Linked DNA regions of Homo sapiens: region 1 is linked to region 2. Evidence: fine-mapped expression QTL. Tissue or cell type: whole blood. Region 2 holds a variant in brackets; the other region holds the start of a gene. All regions are shown on one strand. Distances are from middle to middle.

Region 1 (8,092 bases), 37 kb before region 2:
CCGCTCATAGTCGCCCTTCCCGCCTGGGTAGTCGATGTTGAACCATGTTGTCCACTCACCAGGGCCTGAGAGACATAGCCAAATTGCGGAGGAGCCGTGATCCTGGTGCGCTCCAGTTCTCCTTTCCCTCTCACCCACCCCCAGCTGGCCTCAGGCCCTATCACATTTGTCTCTCCAGTATCTCTCCAATCCCCTCTTACACCTGCCACTGCTGAGGCCTCCATTCAAGCTCTCATCAGCCTGACTGAACCATGTCAGTCACTTTCCACATCAAGGCTCCTCCTCAATGCCACTCACACCCATCCCTGACCCTGCAGTCAGGGTGAGCTTTCTTCATGTGGCTCGGGCCACATCACCTCCAGCTTTAAGATCGTCTAGCTAGGCATTCAGGGTGCTGGTGAGCTGTCCCCAGCCATCTCTCCATACTCATCTCCCCACTCCCTTCCCACCAGCCTGTGCTCTGGCCCCAGCAAGCTCCACAGCATTCCTGAAAGGTATCAGGCAGATTCCTGATTCTGAGCTGTCTTATATACTAAGTTCCTTGGCTGGACAGAGATGGAGGCCAAATGCTTGTAAAAGTGGGTTTCCATGGGACCCTGACATCATGCCCTGGCTTCAGAGATCCACTTCGGAAGCTCGTTAAAGGCTGCCCCTCCAGCCCCTCCCTGCTTCAGCCACAACTCACTCTCCAGGGTGTCGGCAGGCTTGGCAAAGATGCTGGGGTTCTTCTTCCCAGGCTGGACTCTTCTTACTGACTGGGTGAGCATCGTCTGTCTCCCTGAGGGCCAGAAGGAGAAGCTAAGTGAGAGGCCAGGACTGGAAGTTACAGCATTCCTCAAGATGCAGGGAAACAGTGTGAGGTGGTGAATGGAGCATGAGCACCAGGCATGGGTTCAAACCCCACTCTGCTACTTATTGCTGTGCAATCTCAGAAAAGCTTTACTCCTCTGAGCCTGTTTCCCCATAAAATAGGAATGCACTAATAATTGCTGCATCCTAGGGTCCTGGTGCATTATTCAGGTGATAATGAATGTAAAGAGACCTGGCTTGTAGTGCACACTCAGTGAATGGTATCTCCCTTTTCACTCTTGTTCTAGAAATGGATTATCAGATGCTCCTGAGCAGCCAGTGGCCTGGGACTCCTGCTTTGGTGTCTGCACCAAACCTTCTTGGCAAAATGGAGCTTTGTTTTCCTCATGTGTAAAATGGAGATATTTATTCCCATCTCGCAGGGTGATTCAGTTGGCATGAGGATTCCATGAGCTAGAACGTAAAAGCCTCTGAAGTATATGCAGATTGACAGTGTGGGCTCCTGAGACTCTGCCAGTTTCTAACTGTGTGACTTTGGGCAAGTTACTTAACCCAGCTGACCCCATGTTCTTTCATCATAAAATAAGGATAATGATAGTTCCTGCCTTAGAGTATTGTGGGGATTAAATAAGCTCATTCATAAAATCCACTTAGAACAACACCTAGCACATAACGCATACTGAATAAGTGCTAGCAACTTCTTTTAGCTCAACGCCAGAATAGATGGCCATTTACTTTCCCTTGGGAGTCCACTCTCCCATAAAGACTCCTATGGCCTAATTGGGGCAGCGGTCCTCAATTTTCCATACGAGGCTGGCAGGGACTGCCTGAGGATGGGTACAGGGTCCTCGGGCCACAAGCAGTTCCAGCTGTACCCTACCTGAGGCTGGGTTGGGGTCTCCAGAATGGGAAGGAGAATGCGGAGCAGAGGGCTGCAGAAGCTTTGACAGGCAATTAACGCTTACTCCAGGAGCCAAATCAGAATTCTCTATGCTGCTTAATTGGGGTGATAGGAGCTCTTTTAATCAACCTAATCTGATTTCCCCTCAGATGGTTGAATGTTAATCATCTTCACAAGCAGCAGCTGTCAGGGTGGAAAGAGCAAGGCAGGAGGCAGGCACATACAGGGGTTGGCTCCAGGCTGAGACAGCCTTTGTTCCTGCATTTGTAGCCACAAATCCTGCAAGGCATACAGCTTTAAAGGAGGGTTTTGAGCTTTTTTTTTTTTTTTTTTTTTTTTGCTTTTGCTTTACCTGAGTATGTGCTTAGAAATCAGGAGAGGAAGGGGAGGAGGTGGGAGAGAGTGTGCAGGGGAGGGCTGACGCTTAGATGCCTTGGGAAGTCTTCTGTTCCACCAGACAAATTCTTTCTACGAGTTCCTTCCAGAGCTCAGTATCACCAGAGGATGCAGTCAGAGGGCAAGGAGACCGGAAGGGGTTCTGGTGTGTCTGTGAAATTTGGCTGCAGGGTCTAAATGAAATTGAGCTTTGGGCCAAAAGAATCTTCATAAAACTAAAAACAGACCAAACCCCAAACCTGCTTCTGAGATCTCACTGATGCCCTGTGATTCCCTATTACTTTGGCTGCCAGGAAGCTCGGAGCTCAATTTGGTACTCAAGGGCTAAAAATAACCCTCTTATCTTTTTTTCCTCCCTCTGAATGACTGCTCATCCCTCTTCTCATATAAAGGTTCTGTTTTGTGAGTTTTAATAATGGGAACAATCTCAAGTTTTGGAGAAAAACAAACAGGGTATAAATTACGAATAAATCCATAAAGTGGCCTCAGGTCTTAAGGCCTTGCTGTGTCTTAAGGCAGATGCATAGTTCAGTCCCAGACCAGACACAACCTCACTGTGGCAAGTGGAAGATTTGGGAGCCAGCAGATACTTAGCCTATACCCAACACAGATGTGACTTCCAGGACCAGGAAGGAGAACACCCAGGCCTTGGTCCCCACCATCTTTCCCCCAAGCCCGTGGGAACGTGGCAAGAGGTAGATGTGGGTGCTTCACAGAGTCACTGACTCTGGAATGCGGTCCCCTGGGAAGTTTCTCAGATCCAGTGACCTGTAAAGAAACAAAGCTTGTCAGGTTTCATATTTCTGAATCACCGCTTATGGCTCAAGCAGAAATATTTCTTGACCTGTCAAGGAGGGAAAGGTGGACAGAATGATATGAAAGTGATATCTGCCTGAGTTGTGAAACCAGGTAGCTTGGGAGGTGCAGAGGCTCAGAATCTGAGTTCAAATGAGGCAGACTAGGTTCCATCCCTGGGGGTAGGCTCCAGGGCCCCACATGGAGATGAGGCACAAGGACAAGCAGGGGCGAGGAGGTTCCTTGCAATGAGGAGAGTCCAGGGCTCACCCCCAGCAGCCTCTTGGTGACTCGTCACTTCTAAAACCCAGGCCTGAGGGGCATTTGTTTTGCCATCCTTTGATGGAGTTCACACTCTCACACAGGCGGGTACATATTAAGGCCGTGAAGACTTGGCTCCGACTCCAGTGGCCTCTCATAAGGCAGGCTGGCTGGAGGGTGCAGATGCCTCGGACATACCACCTCCATGAACACATTCCCAGATGTGCACGGGCTGCAGCTGGAACACATTTCTGGCCTTTTTGTTTGGGGCCTGACTGGGAGTTACACAGCCAGGAGCCAGCTGACGGAAAGCAGAGGGGATGCATTGTGAGAGGCCAGGGCTCCCCAGTAACTGCTGAGCGTGGGTGAGGAACTGCAAGGGTCAGGAGAGGAAAGCAGGCCTGGGACAAGGGCAAGGAACTATGGGGCGTGCGTGGCCCAGGCCGCAGCTGAGCAGAACATTTTTATGTCTCCCCAGAGCTCCGGCCAACCCAGAATCTGACTCGTTTCTGGGGATTCAAAAGTGGTTCCCTTCAACATCCTAAGTCCAGGGTGTGGTAGGAAAGGGAAGAGTCCTCCTCTCTAAAAAATACACATATCTGAAAACACTGGGATATTCCAGGGGAAGAAAAAACCAGTCCCATGCTGCAGACCTTCTAGCTCTAAAACCACTGGCCCCACCACTACCTGTTTCTCGGATGAGGGAGCAGAGTCACCAGGACGTCCCAAAGGCCTCCACATTGTGTGTATCCCTCTGGGCTCCAAGCAGGGAGCTGAGCAGTCTGCTGGCCTGCACTGCATTCAGCCTGAGCCTGAGCCTGCTCCAGGGATGTCTGGAGGCTGAGGTGGCCTGAGACACCTTGTGGAAAAACCATTTCCCATCTGGCAGCCCACAGAGGTTTCTCAGCATCTCCGCCGTTTCCTCAGCATATGCCCTGATGGTTAGGCTTGCCATCCCACGCTCCTCAGAACACTTGGACAAAGCAGACTGGCTGACCGCAGGGAATAAAGCAGGGCACCCAGAGGTATGGAAACCCTAAGTGGGACCATCTGGGGGTTCCTGTCCTCAGGTGGGGGAGGGAGAGGACTTTGGGCCAATGGGGGAAAGCAGATTCCCAAAGCAGAAAGGGAGTCTTCTCTGTGGGAGATGAAGGATCAGGCAGCAAAAAGTGGGGGGAAGTGGGGAGAAGGGAATGGAGTAGTCAGGGGAGGGCAGGAGCAGTTGAGTCCAGCAGTGGGGTGCAGGGATGGGGTGAGGGGAATAGGAGTGGAGCTCACCGTGTCTTGAGCAGGACTCCTCAGCTGGGGGTCCAAGCCTTCGCCTCTCCAGCAGTCCAGTGCCGGCCTTATATAGCACAGCTGGTGGCTCAGCCTGTGGCAGCCAGCCAGAGGAAGCAGCAGCGAAACCAGATCTGAGCATGAGCCTCCCTCTCCCCTCCCCATGTCCCCTTGCAGTTCACAGAGGCCAGGATTTTATGTCCAGATCCTAAGGAGGAGATGCCGCAGGACCTGGTGATGGGCCAGGTGGGCAGTGGCCTGGGGCATCACAGTCCAGAGCAGAGAGAGGGGTCAGGAGGTGGGCTGGGCACTAGAAACAGCCCTGGGAAGGGGCCACGGGGAATTCTAGATCTGGGCAGCATTTCATGGCCCGGGGGATGGTGTGCTCTTGCCTAAGCCTAGCTTGCTGATGCCCCACATTCCCCTGGCCCTGGCTCGCCCACACAGAGAAAAGACTTTGCTGGTCTTAGCACATACTCCAAACACTCTTAGGCACACAGGCCACCTTGGCCTCTCAGCTGGGTGTGTCTGGTCTGAGTTGGGCAACTACTCAGCTTCTCTGGCTTCTGAGGGAACACTCAGGGAACCTCAGAAGGGATAAGGGACAAAAGAATTGTGGGGCATAGGTTGTCAGCTGGTGAGAACAGTTCTTCCTTTCTCCCCCCCACTTCCATCTGAGTGCCTGCTGGTACCCACTGAGACCCCAGAGCTCCAGCATGTGGACTCTTCTGAGACCCTGATGCTCATATATGTGCATGCGTGTGAGTACGTGTCTGCCTTCAGGTATAGGCATCCACCAGCATGTGAACAGCCAGTGTTACCCATAGGGGGCGTATGCAGCTGCATGTGCTCTGGGGCTTCACACCCCCACTCCCGGCCCCCTGGCCCCAGCATGAGGTTATCTGTTTGCACAGACACTGGTTCTCTAATTTTAGCATGTGTTAGAATCACCTGGAGGGCGGTTAAAGCAGATTTCTGGACCCCACACCCAGAGTTTCTGATTCAGTGGGGCCTGAGACTTTGCATTCTAACAAGTTCCCAGATGAGATTGATGCTGTTGGTTCATGGATCACATTTTGAGATTGACTGGTCACAGTGATAGAGCCCCAGTTGAAGGAAGAAGATGAAGAGCGAGTGTACTAAGGACCACAGTGGGAGCTTCCCAGGTCCTGCCCCATGTAGCAGGCTCATCTAGCCTGGGCTGGGCTTCCTGCCTCATGCCAGCAACTGGAGATGGAGGCCTGGTCCTGTGGCCATCCACGCCAGGGTCAGCTCACTCTCTCCACATACCTTTACCGAGCTCTTATTCCCAGGCTCTAGACTGGGCACTGGGAAGGCACAAGAAAAGAGATGTATCCTTGCACTCAGAGGAAAGAGCCTCACGTGGAAATGATCCCGTAGTACAACAGTGCATACCCACATGCCAGAGAGTTCTGTGTGTGTGTGTTTATGCCTTTTCCTGTGTGTATGTGTCTTTCTGTGTGTGTGTGTGTATGTGTGCGTAAGAGCTGTTTTTTCTGAGCATTGCCTTTGACAAGATATACTGGGAGGCTGGGTGGAGTGGCTCACGCCTGTAATCCCAACACTGTGGGAGACAGGGGCGGGTGGATCACTTGAGGTCAGGAGTTCAAGACCAGCCTGGTCAACATAGTGAAACCCATCTCTACTAAAAATAGAAAAACTAGCCAGGCATGGTGGAGTGTGCCTGTAATCCCAGCTACTTGGGAGACTGAGGCAGGAGAGTGGCTTGAACCCAGGAGGCAGAGGATGCAGTGAGTTGAGATCGTGCCACTGCACTCCAGCCTGGGTGACAGAGTGAGACTTGGTCTAAAAAAAAAAAAAAAAAAATCTGCTGGGGAAGAGAGTGGGGGTGGAGAAAGGATGTTGAGCAGCATGGTTCCCAAGTAGACCTGGGGCATAGATCTGATTTGCTTTATCTCCTGGAGCCCCGTCTCCCTCCTGGCCACCAGCCCTTGGTTCATAAGCCCTGTAGTTGGCCCTAGTCTGGTCCAACTTGTCAGAGCCAAGCCATGACTCAGTTTCAGCCATGGCTTTGACTGCAGACGTCTGAACTGAGTGAACCCCATGTGAAATCTGATGGCCTAAGGAATAGACAGACAGACAGGCTGAGCCACAATCCCCAGATCAAAGGACAGGAGAAAAATTGAAATTTGGAATTCAGAAGCCTAGTCCTGGCTGTTTCTGATTCTGATATGCGACCGTGAACTAGCAAGAACCCAAGTAACCCTGGGCCTCAGGTGTGCAACGGGAGATGGACTGAGTGAGTTTGCAGGCCCCTGCCAGCTCTGAGATTGCAAGGTTTGAGATATACAGATGCTCTTTGGCTTATAGTAATGTCCCAATAAACCCACTGTAAGTTGAAAATATCATAAGTAAAAAAAATACGCTTAATGCACCTAACCTACTGAACATCAGAACTTAGCCTAGCCTACCTTAAATATGTTCAGAACACTTACATTAGCCTACAGTAGCCTACAGTTGTACGAAACCATCTAACAAAAAGCCTATTTTACCATAAAGTATTGATTATCTCATGTGATACATTGAATACTGTACTGAAAGTGAAAAACACAATGGTTGTACAGGAAAGTACAGTTTCTACTGAATTTGTGTCACATTTGCACATCATAAAGTCGGAAAATTGTAACTTGAATCATCCTAAGTTGGGGACCATCTGTACTGACAGCAAACAGAGCTGGGAGGAGAGAGTGGAGGGAACGACTGCTCCTACGTGTCTGGCAGAAGTCAGAGGAGCCAGTGTGGAGTCAAGGTCAGGAGGAAGTCCAGAGAAGCAGATATGACCACCAAGGCTGGATAAGGACAGCAAGAGAGATACACAGGAAAGGAAGGTAGTGGGAGGTAAACCAGAGGGCAAGGTCAGGGTAATCAGCTGCTCTCCAAGGCCTTCATTCTGTGGAATGCCAGGGTGGGTAAGAGACGCCTCCCCAGCCTCCCAGTCACCTCCATCTCTTTCTGTAGTGGGAGGCAGGGTACCCTATGGGTGAGGATTGGGCAAAGTGGAGTGTTTTAGGCCAGGATTCCTGCCTGGGTCTCCTCATTCAGCCCAGCACTCACACTGAGGCCCTCACTTACCTAGCCCCAAGTGGCCAGTGCGTGTTAATATGGTAAGTACAGGGTTGAGGGCTGCGTTCCAATTCCACCATGCCATTTCCGTCCACCTGTCTCATATCTTGCCTCCTCCCATACTCCCATCAGAGTCCTTTCCTGTCTCCAAGTAGGAATGAGCTGTGTGAGCTGCACAGGGCTAGACTGGGGAAATCTGAGCCTGCCCTCACTCTCTCTTCCCAGGACTCCTTTGGGGGGGAAGCTATTGCTGTCCTCAACCAGGACCCCAGAATAGAGAGGGCTTTGGAGGTGGCCGTAGGTCTAGACTGTCCAAGGCCTGGCCTGGGTGGGTCAGCCTCAGCCACGAGTGGCCATCTGGGGCTTCTGCAAGCCAGGCTACTCTGCAGCCACTCCAAGCTTCTGCCTGGAACATGCTGGAAACCCATCAATCACCCCATCCCTGCCCAGGGGATGAAGGGACTTGGAACCCAGCTTAGCTAGGCCACCTGTAACCCAAGCCTATAGCCAGGGGTCCACACCCTGCACCCTGCAGTGGGGAAAGGA
Region 2 (8,104 bases):
CCCAAGAGTATGCCAAGCTCTTCCCCACCTCAAGCCCTTGGCATTGCCTTTCTCCATCTGGTAAGATCTTCCACAGGCTCTTTGCATGGTCGTTTCTCATTCTCAATCTCCAGGTCTCAGATAATGTGTCAGGAAGGTCTTCCCTGACTTTTGTTATATCCAGGGGATGGCCTGCTGGATACTATCTCCCACATAATCTCATTTACTTCCTTCATATAATATATAATATACAGATCACACTCCATCATTGTTTACTTACTATATTAGTCTGTTCTCATGCTGCTAATAAAGACATACCCAAGACTGGGTAATTTATAAAGGAAAGAGGTTTAATGGACTCACAGTTCCGCATGGCTTGGAGGCCTCACAATCATGGCGGAAGATGAAGGAAGAGCAAAGTCACATCTTACATGGCAGCAGGCAAGAGAGTGTGTGCAAGAGAACTCCCCTTTATAAAACCATCAGATCTCGTGAGACTTATTCACTGTCATGAGAGCAGCACGGGAAAGACCCGCCCCCATGACTCAATGATCTCCCACCGGGTCCCTCCCACAACACATGGGAATTATGGGAATTACAATTCAAGATGAGATTTAGGTGGGGACACAGCCAAGCCATATGGCTTACTTTCAGTGCCTTAAGAGCAAGGATCTTGTCTGTCTTGTTTATGGCTGTATCCCCTGCAGCCAGCACAAGATCTGGCACAAACTAAGTGTTCAATGACTATTTGTTGAATATGTAGACTAACAGGATGGCCTATTGGTTAATCAGGCTGTACATCACAGAAGTAGTGAGTCTCCTGTGAGCCTGTTGGTTGGTCTGAGGATTTGGTCAGCCTGGAGTAGGTCAGGCAGCTGTTGAGTGGGCCACTTACTCTGTGGGGTTGGTCTGTATGACTGACAAGCCAACTGCAAAGCCAGGCCAGGATGCTGGGGGGATACAAGAAGGAAAAGGCCCAGGCCTACCCCTAAGAAGATTCTTGCCCATCTCTATTTAGAGTCTTACTGCTCCCCATTCCCTGGCCAGGAGGTGACACAGGGATGGCCTGGGGGAGTGGGGAGGCTATAGAGCCTGTCCCAAACTGGCAGCTGCTCCTCAGTAATTCTGCTGCAGGGCTTTCAAATCCCATGAACCTCACCTCGTGGCTGCAAGGCTCAGGAAGAGCCTGTGGGGGAGGCACAGAGAGGGCTTTGTGGCTTCCTCGCCACCCCACCTCCTAACCTCCCCTGACCTGGGCTCTCTGCTCATGGAAAGTCCCCCTCTGGACCTGGCTGCCTAGCCCCAGGAGACAGGCGGTAGGACACGTTGCCACTATCTGCTCTCTGCAGGGGCAGAACATGAGCCTGTACCTCTAGGGGCCACTCCTTACAACTGAAGTTGTGCCCTTCATAGACCAGGGGAAGCCCAGCTCTCTGGCTGAGGGAAGAGGCTTTGGATAGAAGCTGGATATGGGACAGTTAATCCCAGATCTCGCCAGGAACACCGCTGCTGTGGGGTCATGGATGTGGCTAGAGTCCCATGGAGTATGTGTAGGAGGGTGTCAGAGCTGCTTGTATGGAAGCAGCTGTTTGCAATAACTAGGCCACAGCACCCAGGCCGCCAGCAATCACCGAGCTTCCATCCTGCTCACTGACAAACTCCATGACCAGGAGGCCCCACTCATGGTGACATCATCCCCTTGCACGCTGCTGAGGGAAATGAGCTCAGGACAGCCATCAGAGGCGGCCTGTTTACTTACAGGGACCCTGGCCGTCAGCAGCTATTTGACCAGACATTCCCTGTCCTGGCCAGCATGAAGCAGAAATTTCCTTAAACACATTACTTTGGCCACAACCCATTGCCTGCTCTCTTGCTTTCAATTTTTTTCAAGAGGAAAATTCCTAGTTCTGGCCCCAAGCAGAGCAGCCAGATATGGTGAGGGGCCGTCACAATGACTCCCAGAGGGCCTTTTGCAGTTTAAGTTACTCCCATCTCCAGGGTAACTCTTAGAGCTGAGAGAACATCAAACCAATTATCTGTGACCCATGTTGGGGATGGCCATTGGGGTGGCCAGCATGACCTCCAGGCAGACCCTCTCCCTGCTTCTCTCAGGGCCTCGGCCACCCTGAGCTCACTTCCAGAGAATTTCCCAACTCAGCAACCCTGGCTGCACCCTAAACCCCTCCCTCAGTCCCTCCAGGTCAGGGATATTTTGGGAGAGCATAAGAGCTGCCAGCTTTAACAGGCTCTAGGGGATTCCCGAGATAGTCACCCCCAGCAACCCTGGCTGAGAGGCACTATCTCCGGACCGCCCCCAACTCTCCTTGTACCTGCTGGAACTCAGCCATTCCAGAGGCCTTGAGGGCACAGGGGTCATGGAGGTCTCCTTGGTCTCTCAGGTGCTCTATGATTCTCAGCCACCTGAGCCAGGAGCAGAGCGATGCGCTCCCAGCAATATCAATCATGGGAGGCAGACGCCCTCCGCCTGTCTGGATGTGCCCATACTGGGGCTGGTCAGGCAGGCACAGACATGTCAGGGAGCTTGAAGACTTACCTGACCCAGCTCTGCCCTGTGGCCTGATCCTATTTAGCTCAACATCCTGCCTCACTGGGTAGGGGCTCAGGGGCAGAATCAGGTCAGAAGAGGGTGTTGAACCTGTCTTTCATAGTACTTATCTGTACACAAGACTGAGAAGATGTCAAGGATCCACATCAGAGAATGGGGTGAAGGGAGTGGCTCACACAGATCTCAGTTGGCAACTTCTTAGAAGGTACCGAAGAAAGGGCCAGATTTTCTCCCCCACTGTCCCCACCCCCAACCACCATAGGGCCAGAATTCCCTAAACATGTGGTTTACATGAATTCAATTTGTCAACGTGTCTACTGAACCCAACATTTGTAAGATATGAAAGCTGGAAAGTCTGTAGATAAGAACAGAAGCTAATATTTATTGAACATCTACTATGTGCCTGGCATCATGCTCAACAATTTTTTTTTTCCCAAGACAGGGTCTCGCTCTGTTGCCCAGGCTGGAGTGCAGTGGTGTGATCATAGCTCACTGCAGCCTCGACCTCCTGGGCTCAAGCAGTCTTCCAGCCTTAGCCTCCTGAGTAGCCAGGACTATCGGCACAGGTCATCAAGCTGGGCTAATTTTTTAAAAATTTGTTGTAGAGACAGGGGTCTGGCTATGTTGCCCAGGCTGGTCTCGAACTCCTGACCTCAAGTGATGCTCCTGACTTGGCCTCCCGAAATGCTGGGATTACAGGCATGAACCGCCACACCTGGCCCATGCTCAACACTTTACACACATTATTTTATTTAATCCTCACAACAATCCTGATGAGGTTAAATAACTCCAAAGGACACAAAATCCATATGGCAGAGCTGGGATTCAAACTGAGTTCTGTCTGAACCCAGAGCTTCTAAAATTAGGCATCTTCCAATTTGACCTCTAAAAAGTAATTAATTAACCCAGGAATCAATCACCCTCCTTCTGTAAACCACACAAGGCCTATACAATTAATGATGAGGTGATCTAACCCTTTCATTCTACAGATGAGAGGCCAGATCACAGTGAGTCTAAGCTGAGCACAGGACTAGTATCTTGGACTCTTAGGTCACTGCCCTCTCACCACCCCAGCCTGTCTACCCAGGCAAGGGAATGGATGGCTGGAGAGCTGTGAGTTCTACCCTCTAGGAAAAACACATATGAACATTCACACAGACAGACACACAGAGACATGTATACACAGGCGATAACACACACAGGCACTTAGACCAATGGATTGTTCTTTTTTTTTTTTTTTTTTTTTTTTGAGACGGAGTCTTGCTTTGTTGCCTAGGCTGGAGTGCAGTGGCGCAATCTCGGCTCACTGCAACCTCCACTTCCCGGGTTCATGCCATTTTCCTGTCTCAGCCTCCTGAGTAGCTGGGACTACAGGCGTCCGCCACCACGCCCGGCTAATTTTCTGTATTTTTAGTAGAGGTGGGGTTTCACCGTGTTAGCCAGGATGGTCTCGATCTCCTGACCTTGTGATCCGCCCGCCTCGGCCTCCCAAAGTGCTGGGATTACAGGCGTGAGCCACCGCTCC[C/T]GGCCGGATTGTTCTTACCTCTCTACTTTCCACAGTTCCTTTCCATGAGGCCCTTGTCCTGGGCCCACCCTTTAGATGGCCACACTCTGGCTTTACTCTGGCCACAGACACCTCTTCAGATTCCCAGTGCCTAGTGTGGGGACAATCACAGAACAAGTACTTTAAAAATGTCCAAGTAAATTAGTAAATCATAAATCAAGAATGAGTGAATGAATGCTTCTGCACAAATAGGCATATGTGCTTTCAGAGGCTCACTGACATATTATTTACACCAAAATAACCTCATGAGTACCCCCACAAACACACGTAGGCAGGTGGTAGACCAATTCAACTATGCAAGCAGTAGAGGCCCACACTTTCCCTCAAAGATACTCACATACATGGGCTTATACAGATGTGAATACTTACATACAGGGAAACACACAAGTACATACTTTCTACCGAGGAACAGCTGCAACCAGCAATGCAGCTGCCTACACACACAAACCCAGAAGTCACACAAACCCACCCTGATCTGCTCAGCTAGACAAAGGCAAAGCTGCAGGCCCAAAACAGACTGGGAGTGAGACATTTGTCCATAGACTCCTGGACTGCCCCTGGATCCCACACTGTCTGCCTCCTTCCCCCTCCTGTCTGCGGCCAGAGGGGGTTCCTAGAATTCCTTTTGCAGACTGGCTGAAAAAGCCGGCTCTTCCTCCTCCCCCACAGACCCAGGCCAGAGTCCTAGGTTAGGGAAGCAGATGTTATACGTTGTGGGGAGCTATGCCTTCCCAAGGACTCTGCCCTTGGTCCCCAGTTGCCTCCCAAAGCCTGACTAAGGCCAGGCTGGACGCTGGATGGTGGCAGAGCACACTCAGGTTCCACTGCCCCAGCTCTATTGCCAACTAGATGATTTAGGAGCATCTAGTGAATAGCGCTTTTCCAGAAGCCTTGCTTCCTTAGGAAACCGCTCAGCCACCAGCCTGATCTTCAAAACAGGCCTAGGGGACGAAAACACTCCTGCTTCTCTGCAAAAACATGGGCAGCTCCTCTTGCTCAGAGCCCCTAGCGTCATCCAAACCACAGCATCTCAAGGCTGTGGGAATTAAAGGCCAGTGTTCTAGTCCTGCTTCTGTCTCAACTCTGTGGACTGTGTCCACTTTTGTAAAATGAGCCATTTGAGTGTGACGACTTCAGATCTAGCTGGAATGGTGTGGGAATCTAATTCCCCAGGCAGCCCCTGGGCGGGGGTGAAGGGGCTCCCACCCCAGGGACAGTGGCCCAGTGGGGGCCTCCTCTTAAGTGACAGTCATATTACAAACACAGGACTTGTGCCTGGAGTGGCTTGAGGCTGAGGTGCCCAGTGCTGGGGCAAAATGGGGACTCAGGAGAAATGTCTCGTTCAACCTGGAGACAGACAGCTACCTTCCTTCTCCCTTGTACCCACTCACCAGATCCTCCAGGCCTCTGCTGGAGGTGGACGAAGGGCTGCAGCCCCACCCAGCCAGGCAGGACTGGAGACAGGAATGCTGCTGAGCCCAGCTGGCCAGAAAGGGGTGACTGTTTGTTCTCTGATGTGAGGAACATCTCAGGCAATCAGGGGGATTTGGCTGCCAGCAGCCCCTGGATGCAAGGTCTCAAAAATTTCAACTTAATCAGAGCAGGCTGATAGCTTGAGCAGGCAGTGGGGGTGGAAGGGAGGGGCCATCCCCTTCCTGCCCCACATTCAGTGCCATGTGTGCCTCTGGGCTCACCTCCTGGGTCTGCAATGATGGGGCTGGGAAGGTTACAGGAGATGAGCTCAGAGCTCTGATTGAGTGGGTGTTGGGGGACTTCCCATGGTTTCCACTTCTGACATTGCAGGTGCCTTCTGCTCATAAAACAGAGCAGAGCTCACAACCCCAGTCTGGAAAGGGAACTCGTTTTCTATTCACTGGGCCTGGTGTCGGCACTCTTGTCTTCCTATGCCACCAGCCTAGGTCTTCTTTGCTCAGACAGCCCCTCTAGCTGCAGCCTTGCACCTGCTTGCCTTTTTTTTTTTTTTTTTTTTTTTTTTTTGAGACAGAGTCTCTCTCTGTTATCCAGGCTGGAGTGCAATGGTGCGACCTCAGCTCACTGCAACCCCCGCCTCCCAGGTTCAAGCGATTCTCCTGTCTCAGCCTGCCCAGTAGCTGGGATTACAGGCGCGCGCCACCATGCCCAGCTGATTTTTGTGTTTTTAGTACAGACGGGGTTTCACCATGTTGGCCAGGCTGGTCTCGAACTCCTGACCTCAAGTGATCTGCCCACCTCAGCCTCCCAAAGTGCTGGGATTACAGGCGTGAGCCACTGTGCCTGGCCATGCCTGCCTTTCTTATTCCTTTAGAGTCAGCCCTGGTTCTGCCTCTTTCTGGCCTTTTAACCTTGCACAAGTCATCTCCAAACCTGTTTCTTCTGTAAAATAAACAGAATAGTATCTGCCTTGCAGGGATACTGTGAAGATTAAATGAGATAATTCTTTTAATATGCACATCATGCAGGAGGCACTTGATACACGGTAGCATCCTTTTCCTTCCTCCCTTCTCCTACTGCTGCAGACTGCATCTCTGGTCTTCCTGAGGGCCAGGCTCCTCCAGTGTAGTTTACAGCCACAGCCCTGGTCAGACCTACCCATTGCTGCTTCCGGACTTTGATGGGCCCTGAGGTTTCTGAGGCCAGAAGCCAGTCCAAGCTGACCGAAGGAGGCCCCTTGAGACTGAGGCTGCAGAAGGCCCCAAAACACAGTGGCGCGCGTGTGTGTGTTTTTCCCATCTCTTATTTATTTATTTAGAGACGGAGTCTCACTCTGCTGCCCAGGCTGGAGTGCAGTGGTGCGATCTTGGCTCACTCAACCTCCGCCTCGCTACAACCTTTGCCTCCCAGGTCCAAGCGATTCTCGTGCCTCAGCCTCCCGAGTAGCTGGGATTACAGGCGTGCACCACCATGCCCAGTTAATTTTTGTATTTTTAGTAGAGACGGGGTTTCACCATGTTGGCCAGGCTGGTCTCAAACTCCTGACTTCAAGTGATCTGCAGGCTTCAGCCTCCCAAAGTGCTGGGATTACAGGCATGAGTCACCATGCCCCTGCCTCCCATCTCTTATTTTGCACAGGTTTGAGTGCCTTGTGGGGATAGTCCAAGGGTCAGGACAGTCAAACTTCATCAATCCAGACTCACTAGTTTGGAATTCACACCTTTCTATAGTTAACAAAGGATTTACATTAAAAATAATGATGCTCCAGGATGGCAAAGGCTATCAGTTAAGATCTACCCACGTTTATTCCCCGTTAAGACCCAACTTACTCTGTTAAATAAAAAGGAATGTATTTATTGGTCACCTAAGTGAAAAGTCTGGCTTCAAGCACAACTGGATTCAGTACTCAAAACAACGTCATCAGGACAGCAGCTCTGCTTTCCACTGTGTTGGCATCAGTCTGAGACTTTGCATGGCAGCCAGATGGCAGCCTCTCACATTCAGGACCACTGAAAATGCAAGTCTCTTTCCCAGGATCCCCAGCAAAACTTATGGTTCATTTTGATGAGATACTATTATCTCATCAAAAGATATGAGATACTATTATTATATCAAAATGAGATACTATTATCTCAAAACTCGTGGCTCATTTTGATGAGATACTAGTTGGGTCACATGCCTAGGTTTTTTTTTTGTTCGTTTGTTTGCTTTTTTGAGATGGAATCTCGCTCTGTCGCCCAGGCTGGAGTGCAGTGGCATGATCTCAGCTCACTGCAAGCTCCACCTCCCGGATTCATGCCATTCTCCTGCCTCAGCCTCCCGAGTAGCTGGGACTACAGGCGCCCACCACCCCGCCCGGCTAATTTTTTGTATTTTTAGTAGAGACGGGGTTTCACCGTGTTAGCCAGGATGGTCTCGATCTCCTGACCTCGTGATCCACCCGCCTCGGCCTCCCAAAGTGCTGGGATTACAGGTGTAAGCCACTGCACCCGGCCCACATGCCTAGGTTTGAAGCAATCACTGAGGCTGGGAGAAGGCAACTCACTAATTGGCTTGGGCCTGAG

What was found. PIP is the estimated chance that this variant, and not a neighbour inherited with it, causes the effect.
Region 1: CILP starts here. The variant in region 2 is fine-mapped to the expression of CILP in whole blood (TOPMed, PIP above 0.99). The same link has a PIP of 0.9 or more in blood mononuclear cells.

The regions. Positions count from the first base shown.
Region 1 is chr15:65,206,987-65,215,078 of GRCh38, forward strand. It overlaps CILP (cartilage intermediate layer protein), which reads right to left and starts at 4,487. Exons shown (of 9, transcript NM_003613.4): 1 at 4,442-4,487; 2 at 2,709-2,875; 3 at 686-778; 4 at 1-65. The coding sequence starts at 2,769. RefSeq lists an enhancer at 5,116-6,017.
Region 2 is chr15:65,244,029-65,252,132 of GRCh38, forward strand. It overlaps a transcript of PARP16 not described here. Among named protein-coding and RNA genes, the nearest start is that of CILP, 37 kb to the left of the region's middle. The variant C/T (reference allele first, on the strand shown) is at 4,071.